Linked DNA regions of Homo sapiens. The protein of the gene in region 1 purifies or fractionates together with the protein of each later gene. This does not show direct contact. Each region holds a gene or a part of one and is shown in the gene's direction. Other genes may lie near its edges.

The links.
Region 2: the proteins of CDC25C (region 1) and CDC37 purify together in Homo sapiens (affinity purification with mass spectrometry; 3 studies listed by BioGRID and IntAct, with this or other methods). This does not show direct contact.
Region 3: the proteins of CDC25C (region 1) and SUFU purify together in Homo sapiens (affinity purification with mass spectrometry; 5 studies listed by BioGRID and IntAct, with this or other methods). This does not show direct contact.

What each region holds. Positions count from the first base shown.
Region 1 is NC_000005.10:138,314,801-138,321,823, reverse strand, and holds part of CDC25C (M-phase inducer phosphatase 3), read left to right. Parts: intron 1-2,449; coding exon 2,450-2,605; intron 2,606-7,023. UniProt on the Homo sapiens protein: Functions as a dosage-dependent inducer in mitotic control. Tyrosine protein phosphatase required for progression of the cell cycle. When phosphorylated, highly effective in activating G2 cells into prophase.
Region 2 is NC_000019.10:10,393,539-10,400,561, reverse strand, and holds part of CDC37 (hsp90 co-chaperone Cdc37), read left to right. Parts: intron 1-4,358; coding exon 4,359-4,634; intron 4,635-5,018; coding exon 5,019-5,127; intron 5,128-5,218; coding exon 5,219-5,334; intron 5,335-5,418; coding exon 5,419-5,541; intron 5,542-7,023. UniProt on the Homo sapiens protein: Co-chaperone that binds to numerous kinases and promotes their interaction with the Hsp90 complex, resulting in stabilization and promotion of their activity. Inhibits HSP90AA1 ATPase activity.
Region 3 is NC_000010.11:102,499,696-102,506,975, forward strand, and holds the start of SUFU (suppressor of fused homolog), read left to right. Parts: upstream 1-4,276; 5' UTR 4,277-4,457; coding exon 4,458-4,639; intron 4,640-5,587; exon of another isoform or gene 5,588-5,620; coding exon of another isoform or gene 5,621-5,724; intron 5,725-7,280. Other genes in the region: ACTR1A (alpha-centractin), read right to left, coding at 2,905-2,952. UniProt on the Homo sapiens protein: Negative regulator in the hedgehog/smoothened signaling pathway. Down-regulates GLI1-mediated transactivation of target genes. Down-regulates GLI2-mediated transactivation of target genes. Part of a corepressor complex that acts on DNA-bound GLI1.

The sequences.
Region 1 (7,023 bases):
TTTTAACATATTCTATCCTATGAAGATAAAGTTGATCATGGTTTTTTTTTTTTTTTTTTTTTTTTTTTTTTTTGAGACAGAGTCTTGCTCTGTCACCAGGCTGGAGTGCAGTGGTGCGATCTCAGCTCACTGCAACCTCTGCCTCCTGGGTTCAAGCAATTCCACTGCCTCAGCCTCCCCAGTAGCTGGGACTATAGGCGTGCACCACCACACCCAGCTAATTTTTTGTATTTTAGTAGAGACGGGGTTTCACCATGTTGGCCAGGATGCTCTCGATCTCCTGACCTCGTGATCCACCTGCCTCGGCCTCCCAAAGTGCTGGGATTACAGGCATGAGCCACCGCGCCTGGCCACTAAGTTGATCATGTTTTATTTAGGTTTTTGGTTTCTAGGATGGAGGGAAGACCTGGAGTATGTTCAATTATTGGATAGTCTTATATGTGATTTTTTTTAATTGCAGTAAAATGTACATAATATTTACAATTTTAACTATTTGTGAGTGTGCAGTCTAGTGACAGTAAGTATATTAATAATGTGAGACTATCACCAGAACTCATTTCCAGAATTTTTTCATTATTCAAAACAGAAGCTGTATACCCTTAAGTGATAACTCCCCATCCCTGTTTCTGCCCAGCCAATGATAACCTCTATTTTCTGTGTCAGTGAATTTGACTATTCTAGATACCTCATATGAGTAGAATAATATTATATTTTGTCCTTTCATGTGTGTGTGTGAGGTCTCACTCTGTCACCTCTGCTGGAGTACAGTGGCACAATCATAACTCACTGCAGCCTCAAACTCCCGGGCTCTGATTATTCTCCCACCTCAGCCTACCAAGTAGGTGGGACTGCAAGTGTGTGCCACTATGCCTGGCTACTTTTTTTTTTTTTTTTTTTTTTTTTTTTTTGAGACAGAGTCTCACTCTGTCACCCAGGCTGGAGTGCAGTGGTGCAATCTTGACTCACTGCAACCTTTATCTCCCAGGTTCAGGTGATTCTTATGCCTTAACCTCCCTAGTAGCTGGGATTACAGACGTGTGCTACCATGCCTGGTGAATTTTTTTGTATTTTTAGTAGAGACGGAGTTTCACCATGTTGGCCAGGCTGGTCTTAAACTCCTGGCCTCATGTGATCTGCCCACCTCAACCTAATTTTTTTGTATATTTTGTAGAATCAGGGTTTTGCCATGTTGCCCAGGCTGGTCTCAAACTCCTGGGTTCAAGAGATCCATCTGCTTCAGCCTCCCATAGTGCTGGGGTTACAGGTGTGAGCCACTGCGTCCAGCCTATATTTTCATTTAGCGTAATGTCTTCAAAGTTCATCTATGTCATAGCATGTATTAGAATTTCATTTCTTTTGTATGTATATATCATATTTTGTTTATCCATTCATCTGTTGATGGACATTTTGAGTTGTTTCCAACCTTTTGGCCATTGTGAGTAATGCCGTTATGAACATAGGTGTACAAAATCTGCTTGAGTCCTTGCTTTTATTTTATTTTGTGTATTTTTTTTTTCCAAGATGGAGTCTTTGCCCTGTCACCCAGGCTGGAGTGCAGTGGAACGATCACAGCTCACTGCAACTTCCACCTCCCTGGTTCAAGCAGTTCTCCTGCCTCAGCCTCCCAAGTAGCTGGGATTACAGGCACATGCTACCATGCCCGGCTAATTTTTGTATTTTTAGTAGAGATGGGGTTTCAACATGTTGGCCAGGCTGCTCTCGAACTCCTGACCTCGTGATCTGCTGGCCTCGGCCTCCCGAAGTACTGGGATTACAGGCGTGAGCTACTGCGCCCGGCCCCTGCTTTTAATTCTTTTGGGTATATATTCAGAAGTAGAATTGCTTGATTACATGATAATTCTACATTTAATTTTTTGAGGAACTGCCATGCTATTATCCATAGAATGCCTCTGCACCCTTTTACATTCCCACCAGCAATGCACAAACACTTGTTATTTCTTATAATGGCTATCCTAATGGGTATAAAGAAGTATCTCTTGCAATTTTCATATGCATTTCCATAATGATTACTTTGTTGAGCATCTTTTGATGTGCTTATGGGCCATTTGTATATCTTCTTTGGAGAAATGTCTATTCATGTCCCTTTTGATTGTTATTGTTGTTGTTACTGAGTTGTAGGAGTTCCTTATATATTCTGATATTAATCTCTCATCAAATATAAGACTTGCAAATGTTTTCTCCCATTTTGTGGGTTGCCTTTTCATTCCCTTAATGGTGTTCTTTGATGCACAAAAGTTTTCCATTTTGATGAAGACCAATTTATCTGTTTTTTTCTTTCGTTACCTGTGCTTTTGGTGGCATTATCCAAATCCAGTGTCATGAATTTTTTCCCTTATCTTTTCTTCTAAGAGTTTTATAGTTTTAGCTCTTACATTTAGAACTTTGATATATTTTGAATAGTTTTTAATGTTGTCAATATACTTGACAGGACAATGGAAACTTGGTGGACAGTGAAATGAAATATTTGGGCAGTCCCATTACTACTGTTCCAAAATTGGATAAAAATCCAAACCTAGGAGAAGACCAGGCAGAAGAGATTTCAGATGAATTAATGGAGTTTTCCCTGAAAGATCAAGAAGCAAAGGTAAAGTGTTCTGTGGTAGTATCTTTGTATTCTTCATATTCCTTCATTCTGTTAAAAGAAGAACTAGACAAATTAAACTTAGGAGAGTTTATTTGAGCAAAAAAATAACTAGTGAATCCAGCAACCCTCATAGCCAGAACATGTTCAGTAAAACTCCAGTTTGCCATGTGGTCAGGCAGTATTATGGACAGAAAATGGAAATGAAGTACAGAAAATAGAAGTGAGGTACAGAGACAGCCCAGTTGGTTGCAGCCTTGAGTTTGCCTTATTTGAACATGGTTTAAACAGTTGATTGCTTGTGGTTGACTGAAGCTCAGCTGCTGTGCTTTCCTGAGACTCAGCTTTTTGATACAAAAGTATACTTCTAAATTAGGCTTTCAGTTAGTTTAAGTACTAAGTTAGGTTGCAACTTGGTATATAAAGACTCAAGTACAGAGGCATCCCCAGGCCAAATTTAGTTTAATTAAGAATTCATTCTTCTTTTTTTTGTTGTTTGTTTTTTTTAAGACAGATTCTCGCTCTGTCGCCTAGGCTGGAGTGCAGTGGCGCCATCTTGGCTCACTGCGACCTCCTCTTCCCAGGTTCAAGCGATTCTCCTGCCTCAGCCTCTCGAGTAGCTGGGATTACAGGTGTGCACCACCACACCCGGGTAATTTTTAGTATTTTTAGTAGAGACAGGGTTTCACCATGTTGGCCAGGCTGGTCTTAAACTCCTGGCCTCAGGTGATCTACCCACCTCAGGCTTCCAAAGTGCTGGGATTGCAAGCGTGAGCCACCATGCCCAGCCAACAATTCATTCTTGAATAAACATTTTATGCCTGATATGTATGAGTCACTCTACTAAATGCTAGAGCTACAGAGATCAACAAGATGTGATAACCTATCTTTATTTATTTATTTATTTTTGAGATGGAGTCTTGCTGTGTCACCTAGGCTGGAGTGCAGTGGTGGTATCTCAGCTCACTGCAACCTCCGTCTCCTGGGTTTAAGTGATTCTCTTGCCTCAGCCTCCCAAAGCACGCCATCATGCCTGGCTAATTTTTTGTAATTTTAGTAGAGACGGGGTTTTGCCATGTTGGCCAGACTGGTCTCGAACTCCTGACCTCAAGTGATCTGCCCGCCTTGGCCTCCCAAAGAGCTGGGATTACAGGCATGAGCCACCACGCCTGGCGTAACCTATCTTTAGACTGTAGGGTTACCTGACTGATAGGTTATCAGGTCACTACAGAAATCTTCTTACTGCTGGTGAACAGGTTCCAGTCAATAGTTTGAGTGGATCACCATCAAAGTAATCTAGGATAAGTAATGTCTCCAGGATAATGGTAATGTATAAATGTATAGAATATACCTAACATTACTTTTCAGGTATTTTATAATACAGTCTTTTGTTTCCTTTTTTCTTTCCCATATCACTGATAGATATACCTGAAGCATGTGGGTTATAGCCTATATGCTGATATGCCAAAGATAGTTTCTGAGGCATTTAGCTTTTTTTGGTTTTTGGTTTTTGGTTTTTTTTTTTTTTTTTTTTTTTTTAGATAGACAGGGTCTTTCTCTGTAGCCCAGGCTGGGGTACGTGGCACAATTAAAGTTCACTGCAGCCTCAATCTCCCCAGGCTCTGGCAGTCCTCCCACCTCAGCCTCCAAGTAGCTGGGACTATAGGCACATGCCATCATACCTGGCTAATTTTTTGTATTTTTTGTAGCGATGTGGTTTCACAATATTGCCCAGGCTAGTCTCAAACTCCTGGACTCAAGTGATTCACACACCTTGGCCTCCCAAAGTGCTGGGATTACAGGCATGAGCTACCATGCCTGGCCTACATTTAGCATTTCTAAATCAGCTTTGTTGCTTTGAAACAAGTAGGGCTATGGGTTTGTCTTTAAAATTTATTCATTTCACAAGGCCAGTATGGTATAGTGGAGTTAGAACAGTTGCATTCTAGTCCTCATGCTTTTATTTTTTTTAATTATTTAATTAATTAGATAGGGTCTTGCTCTGCTCTGTCACCCAGACTGGAGTGCAGTGTTGAACTCCTGGGCTCAAGTAATCCTCCCACCTCAGCCTCCTGAGTAGCTAGGACTATAGGTGCATACCACCATGCCCAGCTAATTTTTAAAATTTTTTGTAGAGATGGGGTCTTGATGTGTTGCCCAAGCTGGTTTGGAACTCCTGCGCTCCAGCAATCCTCTTGCCTTTGTTGCGGGATCTTTAGGGTGTTGCTTTTCTGGCCAGAAACCTTTCTGCCCAGTGGTGCCTTTGCCTGAGTTGTTGTCCTGCGTCGAGGTAAGCAGACAAGTAGAGGGTTAGCAAGACGAAGAGAAGCTTTATTGAGTGTTAGAACAGCTCAGAGGAGACCCACAGGGGGCAGCTCCTCTCTGTAGGCAGTTTGTCTTATCCCGTATTCAGCTCTCAGCAGAGAGGAGGCCCTGGAGTGGGTGGCTCCTCTCTGCAGGCAGGTCCTCCCTGTTGATTTCCCAGCTTTCAGCAGACAGCATAGCTCCTCTCTCCTCTTTGGTTGTCTGATCTTTTCTCCATCCTCTACCCTGCTCTGGCTGAGCCTGGGCCTTTTATGGACCTCAGAGGGGAGAAAGTGCTTCCTGATTGGTTCATGGACTGTGAGAAAAGGCAGCACAAATCCCCATCCAGTGGGTGGGACTAGCAGCCCGGTCCCCAGCCTTTAAGCCCTCCCCGTCCTGAAGGTGGGGACTTACAGGAACCTCCCTTCTACCCAGGAGCCTGTCTGTCTCTCTCAGCAGTCCATGGCACCAGGCTGCTCACACCAAGGTGCACCTAAAGGCCAGCACTGACCACCCTCAGTCCCTACTTGGCTTCCCCTCTTTTGCTTCTCCGTGCCCAAATTCTAGAGGGGGTCAAGGTGGCAGGGTGCTGCCCTGAGGGTGCACACACAGATCCGCCCCCGGACTGTAACAGCACCTGGACTTGCCCCAACCCCACTCTGAGATTGGAGTGGGTGCCAAGAGCAGAGAGAAGTGGGGATATGGGGGTGGTGGGGAGGCCTTCCTGGGCCCCCAAGGGTGCAGGCTGCAGAGACTATTAGGTCCTGCACCTGGGAGGGCAGCTGCAGCTGCACCCGGGAAGGCAGGGATCCTGCCTGCTCCCGGCCCCCACAAGACCACAGGGAGGCTCGGATCTGCAGCCACAACTTGGGCGGCTGCAAGCCCACCCAGGAGGGCAGGGCTTCTGCCTGCTCCGTGGAACAGGAGGCCCAGGTTAACAGCTGCAGTTTGTGTAGCTCCAGCAGCACCAGGGGAGCTCCTGCCCCAACTCAGAAGGGGAAGGGCTCCCGCTAGCTCCATGGATCATGCAGCCCTATCCATACCTCTCTGCTGCAGCCAGTTTGATGACAGCAGCAAGCCCTCTGGAGTTGCAGCTGCCAACACCTTGGCCTCTCAAAGTGCTGGAATTACAAGTGTGAGCCACCGTATCCAGCCTCATTCTTTTATTTACTTGGTGGTATGACTGTTCACAAGACAACCACTTGACCTCAGTTTTTAATTTATAAAATGGAGAGCATGATAAAACAACTACCTCCTTAATAGGCTTGTTGTAAATAAAATATTAAAAGCAGTTTATGTCCTCATCACATACACACAAATGGTAACTGTGTGATGAAGGATGTGTTAATGAATTTCATTGTGGTAATCCTCATGTAATATATACGTAAATCATTATATTGTACTCCTTAAGTATATACAAATTTTATCATTTATACCTCCATAAAATAGAAAAAAAAATTTAAAGAGCAGTTTGTAATACAGTAGTCCTCTGTTATCCACAGAGAATACATTCTGAGACCCCCCAGTGGATGCCTAAAATTGCAGACAGTACTGAACCCTATATATACCATGCTTTTCCCTATGCATATGTACCTGTGATGGAGTTTTTTACTTAGGCATAGTAAGAGATTAACAATAATAACTAATAATAAAATAGAACAATTACAACAACATACTATAATAAAAATTATAGGAGGCTGGGCGTGGTGGTTTATGCCTGTAATCCCAGCACACTGGGAGGCCGAAGCGGGTGGTCAGGAGTTTGAGAGCTGCCTGGCCAACATGGTGAAACTCCATCTCTACTAAAAATACAAAAATTAGCTGGGCGTGGTGGTGAGCATCTGTAACCCCAGCTACTGGGCTGGCTGAGGCAGTAGAATCGCTTGAACTTAAACCCAGGTGGCAGAGGCTGCAGTGAGCCGAGATCGCACCGCTGTACTCCAGCCTGGGCAACAGAGTGAGACTCTAACTCAAAAAAAAAAAAAAAAAAAAGTGCTGGCTGGGCATGGTGAGTCAGGCCTGTAATCCCAGCACTTTAGGAGGTTGAGATGGGCAGATCACCTGAAGCCAGGAGTTTGAGACCAGCTTGGCCAACATGGTGAAACCCTGTCTCTATT
Region 2 (7,023 bases), on another chromosome or scaffold:
TGCCTGGTTGATTTTTGTACTTTTTGGTAGAGACAGGGTTTCACCATGTTGCCCAGGCTGGTCTCAAACTGCTGAGCTCAGGCAATCCACCTGCCTCAGCCTCACAAAGTGCTGGGATTGTAGGTGTGAGCCACCAAGCCTGGCCTAAGACCTTGTCTCTTAAAAAAAAAAATTTCAAAGTTTCCAGAAGCGGACAAATGAATCCCTTTTCTCAGCCCCAGCTCGCCGGCTCTCCTGCCCAGAGACAGCTGCTGTTAGTGGTTTCTTCTAATGAGTTGTATGACATTGAGATTCTGTGAGCCTCAGTTTCCCTAACTGTAAGGCAGGAGGGTAGTGACATCTGTGGGCCCTGCTTGCTGGGGTGGCTTCTCCCCTGCCCAGCCTGCTACAGCCCCTCCCCGATAGGAGGTGTAAAGCCCAGGCTGGGCAGGCTGCCGCCCCCGCCAACTCCAAGAGGCCTTTTTTAGCTGCGGCCTCCCTGGCAGTTGTTCAGAGGACACAGGGGAGACTGGTGGCAGCCCAGCAGCGGATTGCAGGGTGGTGGGCAGGCTCCAGGGTGACACAGGCCCATCGTGGAGAAAGGGAGTTGGAGAGGCCACAGCTGCTTTTTTTTTTTTTTTTTTTTTTTTTAAGACGGAGTCTCACTCTGTTGCCCAGACAGGAGTGCAGTGGTGCCATCTCGGCTCACTGTAACCTCCACCTCCCAGGTTCAAGCAATTCTCCTGCCTCAGCCTCCCGAGTAGCTGGGACTACAGGTGCGCGCCACCATGCCCGGCTAATTTTTGTATTTTTTAAGTAGAGATGGGGTTTCACCATGTTGGCCAGGCTGGTCCCGAACTCCTGACCTCATGATCTGCCCGCCTGGCCTCCCAAAGTGTTGGGATTACAGGCATGAGCCACCACACCCAGCAACTTTTTTTTTTTAAGAGATGGAATCTCACTATGTTGCCTAGGCTGGTCTCAAATTCCTGAGCTCAAGTGATCCTCCCACCTCGGCCTCCCAAAGTGCTAGGATTATAGGCATGGGTCACTGTGCCCAGCCTGCAGCTGCTGTTTATCTCATGAGGTATAGCTTTTTTTTTTTTTTTTTTTTTTTTTCAGACAGGGTCATGCTCTGTCGCCCAGGCTGGAGTGCAGTGGGGCGATCTCAGCTCACTACAACTTCTGCCTCGGGTTCAAGCGATTCTGCCTCAGCCTCTGGAGTAGCTGGGATTGCAGGCGCCTGCCACCACGCCTGGCTAATTTTTGTGTTCTTAGGAGAGACGGGGTTTCACCATGTTGGCCAGGCTGGTTTCAAACTCCTGACCTCAGGTGATCCACCCGCTTCGGCCTCCCAAAGTGTTGGGATTACAGGAGTGAGCCACCACGCTCGACCACGTAGGCCTTCTTGACCCCTTATACATATAGGGGAATCCGAGGCTCAGGCTGGCTGTGTCAGTCCCCTGGGGTATTAGAGTAGGGGCCAGCTCTGCCTGGCCCTGCCTTAGAACCTGGGGACACAGCCTCAGATAAGGCACAGGAATGAGTCAGCAGACCATTCAGGTGGCAGTGACAAGGACGGAGATGGTAACAGTGGGACACACCTACTGAGGGCTGTTTTGGAAGCATTTTCCATAGAGTTAGTCATTCAGTTCTCACGGCGATCCTGTGAGACTCCATTTCACAGAGGGGAAGACCAAGGCTGGGAAAGGTTTCAGTGACATGGCCAAAGTTCCATCTCCCGTCAGTGGCACAGCCGGGTGCTGTGACCATGTAGTAACAACCACTCCCAGTTATTGAGCGTGTACTCTGGGCCAGAAATTAAACTAAGCATTTGAAGGACATTTCCTTTTTGAGGCCCCAGAGTGGTCCCCAGAGAGAGAGAGAGATTGTTCTCTTGCACAGATGGTAATGACCCTGGCCAGTACAGGAAGGGTGCGTGCTGAGGGCCCACATGGCTCGGGACATTTTACTCTAATCATCTCCTTAGTTTCTTCCAATATGAGCTTGTGCAGTCAGCATTGTTGACTGTTTGACAGATGAGGAAACTGAGGTTACAGGAGGTTAGGGGATGGCCCGGGATACCCAGCCGGTACATGGTGGCTGTGGGCTAGGACCCAGGGGCCGTTGCCCCAAGGCTGTCCTCCAGCACCCTCACCACATCGTCAGATGGTCACAGGAGGTCCTTTAGGGATCAGTGGTGCCTCAGGCAGGGAGCATTTGGGGAAGGCTCTGTTGAAGCTGAGTTTTGGGTGCAAAAGCAGGTAAGGGAACCGCACATGCAGAGGCCAAGAGGCAAGACAGAGCCCGTACTTTCGGGGAACGATGAGGGCCAGTATCTGCCTGGGACCCAGGACCAGGATGCCAGGATCAGAAGTCCCATCTGAATTCAGACCCCCCAAGATGTAGTGGGGAGGACTCTGGTCACGTGGTCAAATGCATGGGCTTCACAGGCCTCCCTGGTGGCAGCTGTGCCTGGATTGGAGAGGGTCAGCAATTGAAGGTGGTGGCACGTTTCAGGGTTTCAGGGTTTGATTAGTGGCTCTGGATAGAGCAGCCTCCACTGAGGTTCAGGAGAGGTGATGGTGGAGCCACGCAGGGGTCTCAGGAGAGGCCTGTACAATCCGATGGGGCCCAGATGGAGGTCTGAGGGAGACAGGGAGTGAGGCGGGGACCAGGAGCCTGAGGAGATGAGGCACTGTTATAAGGAGAAAGAGGAGTGCCTGGGGAGTGACATCTGGGGCTGGGGTGAGCGGGAAGCAGGTAGACACCAAGCTGGGGCTCAGGAGGGCATGCTGGGCTGGAGACAGAGCTAAGAGGGCCTTGGCAGTGATCCTGGGGCAAGGTTATGGGTGGAACAAAGAAACATCTAGAAGGGGCCCTGGTGCAGTGGCTCATGCCTGTAATCCCAGCACTTTGGGAGGCCAAGGTGGGTGGATCACTTGAGGTCAGGAGTTCAAGACCAGCCAACATGGAGAAACCCCGTCTCTATTAAAAATACAAAATTACCCAGGCGTGGTGGCGCGTGCCTGTAATCCCAGCTACTAAGGAGGCTGAGGCAGGAAAATTGCTTGAACACGGGAGGCAGAGGTTGCAGTGAGCCAAGATCACGCCACTGCACTCCAGCCTGGGCGACTCCGTCTCAAAAAAAAAAAAAAAAAAAAAAAGCCAGGCTTGGTGGTTTGTGTGCACCTGTAGTCCCAGCTACTTGGGGTTGAGGCAGGTTGAGCCTGGGAGATCAAGGCTGCAGTGAGCCATTATCACACCACTGCACTCTAGTCTGCATGACAACAAGACCTTGTTCAAACAAAACTGAACAAAATAAAAACAAAAAAAAAAACAAGCATTTGCTGAGCCCGTGCTTTGCACCAGGCCACGTTCCTGGTTCTGGGAACAAAATGGCGAACACGTTCCCATATTTAGAGAGCAGGGCTTCATTCATTGGAGGGGGGCAGTACCCAAAACGTGATAAATAATTGTCATATGATGTTAGTGGTTGCTGATGTTGAGGAGGCAGGGAATTCCAGACAGGGGCAGCGGGAAGTTGCCATCATCAGGAAGGTGGTTGGGGAAGGGGTCCTCGCTAAGGCAACATGGAGCCCAGATGGCACGGGTGCCATGGAGTCAGCTGTGGGGGGCTCTGAAGGAAAAGCATTCCAAGTAGTTGGAACAGCCAGTGCGAAGGCCTTGAGGTTCAAGAAAAAAGTGGGCTCCGCAGAGTGCAGTAGCTCCCGCCTGTAGTCCCAGCACTTTGGGAGGCCGAGAGGGAAGGATCGCTTGAACCCAGGACTTCAAGACCAGCCTGGGCAACATGGCAAACCCCATCTTTACTGAAAATACAAAAATTAGCTGGGCGTGCTGGTGCACACCTGTAGTCCCAGCTACTTGGGAGACTGAGGTGGGAGGATCGCCTGAGCCCAGGGAGGTCGAGGCTGCAGTATGTCATCATTGGGCCACTGCACTCTGACCTGGACGACAGAGTGAGACCCTGTTTTTTGTTTTGTTTTGTTTTGTTTTCTTAAACAAAAAAAATGGCCTCAAGAAAAGGTGAGAAAAGTGAGGGGCTGGTGTAGCTGGAAGGAAGAGTTACCAGGGGAGGTGCCGAGGCAGATTGTGTAGGGCCCATGTAGGCTGTGGTGACAACTTGGGTTCTGCTGTGAGATGGGAGCCGCCAGGGTTCTGAGCAGAGGACGGAGGGACCTGACCCCACTTGGGTGTGCGCTGGCACCTGTGGGCGCAGGGGCGGAAGCTGGGAGACCAGGGCACGGGAGGTGGACGCGTACTTTTTCCTGGGGCCATCTCCGGTGCAGGGATTGGGTATGGGGCGGGGGTAAGGGACAGACGACTCCCCAGAGTTGATAGGCCGTCCCTGCCCGCAGGCCCGGGTGGAACGCATGGAGCAGTTCCAGAAGGAGAAGGAGGAACTGGACAGGGGCTGCCGCGAGTGCAAGCGCAAGGTGGCCGAGTGCCAGAGGAAACTGAAGGAGCTGGAGGTGGCCGAGGGCGGCAAGGCAGAGCTGGAGCGCCTGCAGGCCGAGGCACAGCAGCTGCGCAAGGAGGAGCGGAGCTGGGAGCAGAAGCTGGAGGAGATGCGCAAGAAGGAGAAGAGCATGCCCTGGAACGTGGACACGCTCAGCAAAGACGGCTTCAGCAAGGTGTGCGGGGCGGGCGGGGCGGGCAGTGCGCATGCGCAGCCAGAGAGCCTGCAACCAGGACGCATGCGCACCCAATGCCTGGTCAGGGGAGGACCCCGGTGGTGTAGTTGAAGAGTGTGGTGGGGGGCGGGGAGCTGAGGGATGGACGGGGGCCACGTGGGAGGGGGGACAGGCTTGGGGGGCCGGGCGGATGAAACACCCCACCGGTCCCCTCCTCTGATCTGCCCCAAGGCCCATGCCCACGCTCCCGCCACCTTGATGCTCATGGCTTCGTCACCACCTCCGCCGTGGATGGGATGGGCGCTGCGACCACGGCCCGCCCGGCCGCGCTCGAGGCGCTCCGCAGCCTTGCCCCAGCCCACTCCCCCTCTCACCCTACCACAGAGCATGGTAAATACCAAGCCCGAGAAGACGGAGGAGGACTCAGAGGAGGTGAGGGAGCAGAAACACAAGACCTTCGTGGAAAAATACGAGAAACAGATCAAGCACTTTGGTGAGTGGGGCTTGTGGGTTATGGGGGGCAAGGTCGAGGCAGGCCCTTTGCCTCCAGGGCCCTCCAGCACCTTGCCAGCATCTTCCCACAGGCATGCTTCGCCGCTGGGATGACAGCCAAAAGTACCTGTCAGACAACGTCCACCTGGTGTGCGAGGAGACAGCCAATTACCTGGTCATTTGGTGCATTGACCTAGAGGTGGAGGAGGTGAGTGGAGCTTTCCCCGGGACTGTGAAAAGGCGCTGCCATGAGGCCGCCACTTGGTGACGCTGTGCCTGTTCTTCCTGGCAGAAATGTGCACTCATGGAGCAGGTGGCCCACCAGACAATCGTCATGCAATTTATCCTGGAGCTGGCCAAGAGCCTAAAGGTGGACCCCCGGGCCTGCTTCCGGCAGTTCTTCACTAAGATTAAGGTAGGGTCCCTGAGCTGCCAGGTGGCTGGAGGCCCCCTCCCCAGGGAACCAGCCCACAATGCTCTAGGTAAGGCCGACTCCTCTCCACTGGGACTCAAGCCCCTCCAGTCACCGCATCCTAGATCAGGAGAGGGTGGGGCCAGGGAGGAGGAGAGAAGTGGGCAGATTCTGCCAGACTTTAAAAGTGGAGGCCGGGCGCAGTGGCTCACGCCTGTAATCCCAGCACTTTGGGAGGCTGAGGTGGGCAGATCACCTGAGGTTGGAAGTTTGAGACCAGCCTAACATGGAGAAACCTCATCTCTACTGAAAATACAAAATTAGCCGGGCATGGTGGTGTGTGCCTGTAATCCCAGCTACTCGGGGGGCTGAGGCAGGAGAATCGCTTGAACCTGGGAGGCAGAGGTTGCTGTGAGCCGAGATCGTGCCATTGCACTTCAGCCTAGGCAACAAGAGCGAAATTCCATCTCAAAAATAAATAAATAAATAAATTAATTAATTAAATAAAAGTGGAGGTCAGGCCAGGCTTGGTGACTGAGTACTATAGTCCCAACTATTTGGGAGGCTGAGGCAGGAGGATCACTTGAGCTCAGGAGTTTGAGCTGTGGTTTGCCACTGCACTGCAGCCTGGGTGACAGAGCAAAACTGCATTACAAAAAAATGTGGGAGCAGTAGGATGTGCTGAAGGTACCCAGGTGAATATGTGGGTAAAGGACAAAGGTGAGGGTGCCTCTAGGGTTTTGGGTTTTAGTTCATTTTTGAGACAGAGTCTTGCTCTGTCACCAAGGCTGGAATGCAGTGGCGTGATCTCAGCTCACTGCAACCCCTGCCTCCCGGGTTCAAGCAATTCTAGTGCTTCAGCCTCCCAAGTAGCTGGGATTACAGGTGCCTGCCAGCCTCAGGGTTTTTTTGTTGTTGTTGTTTTGTTTTTTTTGAGATGGAGTCTCACTCTGTTGCCCAGGCTGGAGTGCAGTAGCACGATCTCGGCTCACTGCAACCTCCGCCTCCTGGGTTCAAGCGATCCTCCAGCCTCAACCTCCTGAGTAGCTGGGACTACAGGCATGTGCCACCATGCCCGGTTAATTTTTTGTATTTTAGTAGAGACGGGGTTTCACCGTGTTAGCCAGGATGTTTTCGAACTCCTGACCTCGTGATCCGCCCGCCTCGGCCTCCCAAAGTGCTGGGATTACAGGCGTGAGCCACCGCGCCCGGCCTAGCCTCTAGGATTTTTAACCTGCGTACCTGGAGGAACAGGGCTATCCTTACCGAGATTAGGGAGACCAAGGACAAGGCAGGCTGGGAGGTGGCCATGTTGAGTTAGAGGTGCCCATGCAGGGACACTGAGGACATGAGTGTCTCAGATCTGCAGTAGAGCAGGGCTCCCAAGCAGGTGGTCTTTGGCAAATGCCAGATGAGGTCCCCGGCGGGGGAGCCCAGGCCTTGGGGAGCCCTTCATGTAGGTCAGGAATAGACTTGGGGAACCGT
Region 3 (7,280 bases), on another chromosome or scaffold:
ATTGAATTTCTATATATTTTTCCTTTTTACAACTAAGAAAAAGGCAGAAGAAGCACAAAGAGCCTGGCTAAAGACAGAAATCGTAGTGCTCTCTGAAAATCAACATCAAGAACAAAAAGTCCTACTCAATTATCTGCAGTAACTAACTAGAGAAAACTCCCCATCTTTTCTTTATTTAGGAATATCTTTGTTACTTTGATAGAGATATTCAGTCATTCATCCAATCACCCATCAATCCAATGAAAAAACATTTATTGAGCACACAGAGGTGCCAGACCCTAGGTATACTGTGTGTGTGTGGAGAGAAGTGGGTGAAGTGAGACTAAAGGAATATCATCTTTCTTAAATTTTTTTTCCCAACACCACTAAACCTGTGGGAGAATATCATCTTTTTCCACAAGGATTTAATAGTCTAGTGAGGGAGACAAAAAGATCCTCTCAAAAATGAAGTATCTGGGCTGGGTGTGGTGGCTCATGCTTGTAATCCCAGCACTTTGGGAGGCCAAGGCGGGTGGATCATTTGAGGTCAGGAGTTCAGGACAAGTCTGGCCAATATGGTGAAACCCCATCTCTACTAAAAATACAAAAATTAGGCCGGGCGCGGTGGCTGACGCCTGTAATACCAGCACTTTGGGAGGCCGAGGTGGGCGGATCACGAGGTCAGGAGATCGAGACCATCCTGGCTAACACGGTGAAACCCCATCTCTACTAAAAATACAAAAAATTAGCCGGGCGAGGTGACGGGCGCCTGTAGTCCCAGCTACTCGGGAGGCTGAGGCAGGAGAATGGCGTGAACCCGGGAGGCGGAGCTTGCAGTGAGCCGAGATCGCGCCACTGCACTCCAGCCTGGGCGACAGTGAGACTCCGTCTCAAAAACAAACAAACAAACAAACAAACAAACAAACAAACAAAAATTAGCCAGGCGTGGTGGTGCACATCTGTAATCCCAGCTACTTGGGAGTCTAGGCTGGAGAATCTCTTGAACCTGGAGGCGGAGGCTGCAGTGAGCTGAGATCGCACAATTGCACTCCAGCCTGGGTGACAAAGCGAGATCCTGTTCCCTCCACCCCCCCACACCAAAAAAAGAGGCGTCTCTGCCAGGCACGGTGGCTCAGGCCTATAATCCCAGCACTTTGGGAGGCCAAGGTAGGAGAATCGCAACAGCCCAGGAGTTTGAGACCAGCCTGGACAACATGGTGAAACCCTTCCTACAAAAAATACAAAAATTAGCCAGGGGTGGTGGCGCGTGCCTGCAGCCCCAGCTACTCGGGAGGCTTAAGCGGGAGGATCACTTGAGCCCAGGAGGTTGAGGCTGCAGTGAGCTGTGATCGCGCCACTGCATTTCAGACTCAGCAACAGAGCGAGACCCTGTCTCCAAAAAAAAAAAAGAAAAAAAAAATGAGCTGTCTCATTGAGCTCAATCCTGCCCCTTTCTAAGGGGGAATAATAAAAACAAAATACCCATGGAGAGAAGGAAAATTTAATGAAAACAACAACAAAAATATATTGGAAAAAGCAAGCAACTTGGAACTGGATCTTAGTCTGATGACTGGCTCCTCAATTCCTAAACTGGATGGTTTGAAATCTGTTATTTAACATCCCTGCATACACTGGGGATAGTAATTCCTATCTACCTAACAGAGCTGAAGCTTAAACGAGAACATTGTAATATGCCTAAGGTCCCAAGAGCTGAATCAACAAAGGGAATCTGACAGAGTCAGCTTACAACAGAGGGAACTGGTAGTTTTGCCTCAATGGAGGGACCTACAAGGGACACAGACAGGGATCAATCTCTGTGGGACCAAAGCTTTGAATCGAAGGCAGAAATGCAGTCGTTTTACAATTTTCTCCTTTCCCCCCAAAATAAGAGCAGTATTTAGATTCTTTCTATTGGTCAATATTGATGCTTCTGCATGGTGGTGCTGGCAAAAGGGATGACGGATAAAGTACTGGATTTAGGGCACCTCTGCTATGTGACCTTGGGCTCACGTTACGTCTTCGCGCTTCAGTTTTCTCATCGGTAACACGAAGATCAAAGTTCCTTTTAAACTATGCGTCCAGTTTTTGTGAGGATCCAACTCGAATGTATGTGAAAACGCCCTGGAAGCGCTAGAGCGCCAGGCAAATATTAAGTTTGGTAATTTTTTCCCCGTAAGAACTAGGCGTTCCAAAGAGGAGGACAACCTCTCTGCTTCCTTTGTCACTCTCCTTTCTTCTCGACCTTTACCAACTTTGTAATTTATAATCACAGTAATAGCTGACATCCTACAGCGGTTTCTGGCACCAGATTCTCGGGCCCCACCCAGATCCACACCACCAAGCCGCAGCGCCGGCTGAGACCGAAGGAAAACTTAGCCGTTCTCCACCCGCGGGCGGGCACTCGCCTCTAGGCCCCACCACCCAGAGTCCCGGAAGCCAATCCCCACAGCCCTGGAGCACTGCCCCGCCCCTTCAAGAGGGAAAACAATATGGCGGCAAGGAAGAATGGCAGGGGCGTGAGCCAATCACCGCAGAGGCCTAGCCTCATCCGGCAAGGCTAAGAGGCGGTATCATTGGCTAAGATGGACAGCCAGAGCAACCAATAGAGCGATCGGAAATGGGGGAGAGGGCGGGCGACGGGAATCTCACACAGCGGTTAAGGCCCCTAGAGCCAAGGGCCCAAGGACTGGCTTGGACTATAACTCTTTCCTTTATCCACTCCAGAGTTCTCCATCCCACTTTTGCTGGCTGGCCGCCTTGCCTGCGGACTATGTGATAAGGGGAGGAAGGAGGCGGCGGTGGCTGAACGCGCCTGACAGGCCGGGCCAGTGACAAAGAGCCGGCGGCTCAGGCTGAACCCCGGGAAGCGATCCTTTCGAGGAGGAGAGCCCAAGTCCCCTTATAGATAGGAAAGACGCAACTCACGTTGTCGATCACGACAGGCTGGTTGGCGATCACATCGTAGGACTCCATGGCAGAGGAATCTCTCCTTCTGGGGAAGGAACTGCCCAGCCGGGTCCGCCGCTAGCGCCACTGACACGCATGCGCAGTCTAGCCGCCGGTTCAGGGCGGCGAGGGAGCGGCCCGACCTCGCCTCTGAAGAACTACAATCCCCAGCAAGCTTTGCGCCTGGGTTAGCGATCTAGCTTGCTTTGTTGCCCGCCTAGTTTAAGATTGGGAGTCGCATTTCCAATGCGCAGTACCCTGGGATTTGTGGTCTCCCTAGATTAAACAGCCAGAGACACAGGTTGATGGTCATGTTGCATGCCTGGATCTGTAGTCCCTTTGAAGGAGTTCGCAGTGCATGCTGAGGTATGTAGTCTTCTCGAGTACTTGTCTGTAGTTCGGTTTGGATTGGTCGTAATTCATGGATGTTTGGATTTTGCAGATCAGCCCTGCCACTCCCCCCGACGTTCCCTTAGACAATATAAGGTTCTCATGTTTTTATTTGGGTCTGTAAGACTTTAATAAACATCTCCTAGCACCTCACACTCTAACAAAAAGGAAATGTTAACACACGTACGCGAGAGGACATATTCCTACAACAAAGGAAAACAATTTAAATTGCATAAAATTAGCTTTAAGTTTAAAAACCTGTACATTGTCGTTGCCTTTTGCATTTTCTTTTTTTCTGCATAACAGGCTAACATTGATCCGAAGATTGGCAATTGGAACTACTGGTATAGGTAATCTTTTGGTCATTAAAACATCATCTAAGGGTTTCAGAAACTGCTCGAGTATCTCTTTAATTTTCATAACGAGCTAGAATTGACACTGATGGTTGAGAAAATGGAGGTGAAGAGAGGTTATGTGTCACTGCTTTCAAATGAGCCCAGTGCATTTTTTTCTCTGGATTATGTTCTCCCCCAGCCCCCTTGAAATTTCAGGGACCTTTTTGTCAATAGCCCTAGAAAACATTAGATTTATTATCATCTATTAATACTAACGCCCCATGGATGAATGAATCAATCCATTGTCAGATTTATGTTTAAATCCTAGTTAGCAGCGCGTCAGCAAAACAGTAACAAATCCTTTGTTGGCGCACTTCTCGCTGCTTTCGTGGGACCTTAGCACCTCAGAGGGTGCTCAGCATCTCTAAACTTGGGTTCCTCCTAACACTAGGGGGAGACCAAGAGCCTTGGGACACTCCCAACACAGGGAGGGGAGGCGGGGCCTATTGTCAAGTCACACCTTCCCTGCCTGTGACTGGCACAGACATTAGCCAATGGGTGCTTGGATAGGGTGCGCCGGCGCCCCGCCCCCCTTAGCGCCCCGCCGCCCCGAGGCACCCTCTGGCAGACTCGGCGGCGGCGACAGCCTGGGCGGACAGTGCGCCGTGCGCAGGCGCGGAGCTAGACCTCGCTGCAGCCCCCATCGCCTCGGGGAGTCTCACCCACCGAGTCCGCCCGCTGGCCCGTCAGTGCTCTCCCCGTCGTTTGCCCTCTCCAGTTCCCCCAGTGCCTGCCCTACGCACCCCGATGGCGGAGCTGCGGCCTAGCGGCGCCCCCGGCCCCACCGCGCCCCCGGCCCCTGGCCCGACTGCCCCCCCGGCCTTCGCTTCGCTCTTTCCCCCGGGACTGCACGCCATCTACGGAGAGTGCCGCCGCCTTTACCCTGACCAGCCGAACCCGCTCCAGGTTACCGCTATCGTCAAGTACTGGTATGCTCTGGGCCGCGGGGAGACGGACAGGCGCGGGCTGGAAAGGGTTAAAGCGCCGAGGGCGAAGTAATTTGTGGGAGGTGGGAGGAGGGGTAGAGAATGGTTAAAGCACTCAGAAGGAGGGCTTCTTGCTGCGAGGGAAGGAGTTAAGGCTCAAGTTGGGAATGGGGACAAAGGGGTTAACGGAGCCCGTGGGTACTGAGGGGTTAACCGGGATTAGGAGAATAGAGTGAGGACTGGGGGTGTGTGTAGGAGCAGAGGGGGGAACGGCAGGAGCGAGGGAACTGTAAACGTGGTGAAAAGAGGGGGCGCCTGTAGGGGGTCATTAGTGGGCGAGGGGAAGCCAAGCGGGGGCGGCCGAAGTGGGATGGGAGAGGCGAGGCGGGGCCTGGGGAGCATTTGAGAGGGCTTTGGAGGAGCGAAGCCGAAGAAGCTCAGAGGGCACGAGACTGCATAGAATGGGGGGTTCGGGGGGCCCAGGGCTCTCCTGTGGTGGGTAGGAGGGCCAAAGATGAGGGCCTGGTGCTTGTGGAGAGAGGAGGAGGTCTCCTTTTGATACCTTCCCGATTAGCTCAGACGTCGTATCAGGGCAAAGCTTTTGCTTTTGAAGTTTGACGGAGCAGCTCTTCCTGATAAACTTTTTGCTTACTCTGCACTGTTCTCTTTCTCCGTGCAGAGCTTCCTCCTAGCTCTGCAGTTGCTTCGCTTTAGGGCATTAGGTAGAGAGAACCATGGTTTGGCTTAGGATTGAAGGGGCCGACAGCTTCCCACCTCCAGTTGGAAATAAATGGTGGAGACTCTGGGACCCCAGCAGGGAGGAATTGTGCAGTGGGACATTAAGAGGAGCTTCTCGGCCATGGCCTGCAGTTTCTCCGGGGAGCTGAGAGTAACCCTCAAGTAGCTTTAGGGTAGGAATGGTCTTTTCTAATTTCCCATTCCTGTTTGCAGCCTGTTTCTTCCTTCAGCATTTGGGCAGAACAGATGTTCTGGGGACTCTGGAAAAGAACCTGTCCTCAAAGTCTTGCTGGACCAAAAACTGAGATATTGGTTGAAACTGTCCAGGACCACATTCATGCAGGCATTGTGTAAGATGATCTTCAATGAGTCTTGAAAGACTGTTCTGCAGCTGCTTGGGGGTGTAGCCAAAGGGTAGACCTGAAGGGGCAAGTGGACATCTTTGCTGGTTACCTCTCCTTTTAGGACTGAGTCTTCCTCCTGGTGAAAACCTGTTGCTTCCCCTGGACATCGGTGTCAGTAGGCTGTGCAGGGCTGAGGCCAGCTGCCCGCATCAATGGGAGGATGCCAAGAGGCCAACAGCGTGGAGAGCCTGGGGACCAGCCACCTGCTGTCTAGGGAGGATTGTAGGGAACAGCCTCCTCTGTCAGAGTAGACGGGAGGAGGTGGAACTGGTGTCGCAGTCCTCTCTCACTGGCGAACTGTTCTCTGGTTGAGAGGAGTTGTTGAAGAGCGCTTCTGAGTGGAAAGCAGCTCTTGCTAGCTTAATGACCCATTCTCATTGTGCCTTTATATTTAACTATGTGTTGTGATGAACTTGTTGTCATGTGTCAGGAGAAAAGTGGGCCTGGGCTGGGCACAGTGGCTCATGCATGTATTCCCACCACTTTGGGAGGCCTTGAGGATCCCTTGAGGCCAGGAGTTCGAGACCAGTGTGGGGAGCGTAGCCAGACCCTAACTCTGTTATTTGAAAAAAAAAAAAAAAAAAAAAAAAAAAGAAGTGGGCCTGGCTCTGCCACGCTGTTTGTTCAGGCCTCATTTGAGTGTGAGGAGAAATCCCTACACAGATTCAGGCAACTATTTTTATGTCACCCAAGTAGCCATAAAGGATAGAATTGTATGTAAAAGGTATGAAAGCATGTGCAAAGGACTAAGGGCAATTTTTTTTTCCTTCCTGCTGCAAGCTTGTTAACAGCCATATCTTCAGAGATGGGCCAACATGTGATAATGAAGAAAAGGGATTATACAGCACTTTGTGAAAGCCCTTCCTAGATGCAGAAAAGTATAAAGAGAAACAGCACAGTGACTGGTACTTTCTTTTTTTTTTGAGACAGAGTTTTGCTCTGTCACCCAGGCTGGAGTGCAGTGGCACGATCTTGGCTTACTGCAACCTCTGTCTCCCGGTTTCAAGCGATTCTCGTGCCTCAGCCTCCCAAGTAGCTGATATTACAGGCACACGCCACCTTGCCCAGCTAATTTTTGTATTTTTAGTAGAGGCAGAGTTTCACCATGTTGGCCAGGCTGGTCTCGAACTCCTGACCTCAAGTGATCAACCCACCTCGGCCTCCCAAAGTGCTAGGATTACAGGCGTGAGCCAGTGCGACCAGCCATCAGTGACTGGTACTTTCTAAGATGTGGAGGGGTTTGCAAAAATAAGATCCTGAAATTCATTTATATTCCTCACATTTGGGATCCCACGAGGTTTCTAGCAGGATGACTGACCCAGGCTGTCTGGGTCTGTCTGTGGCCCAGGGTAGCTTGGGATTCATTTTGCAATAGCAGTGTGGCTCTGTGACTGGTGATCCCTGAGTAGTGGGGACATTCTAACTGAAAGCTGAGACTTTGGTGAGCAAGGATCAAAGCAGAGAGGCAGAACCTGTACTCATGGCCCACTTCAGTCCTGCAA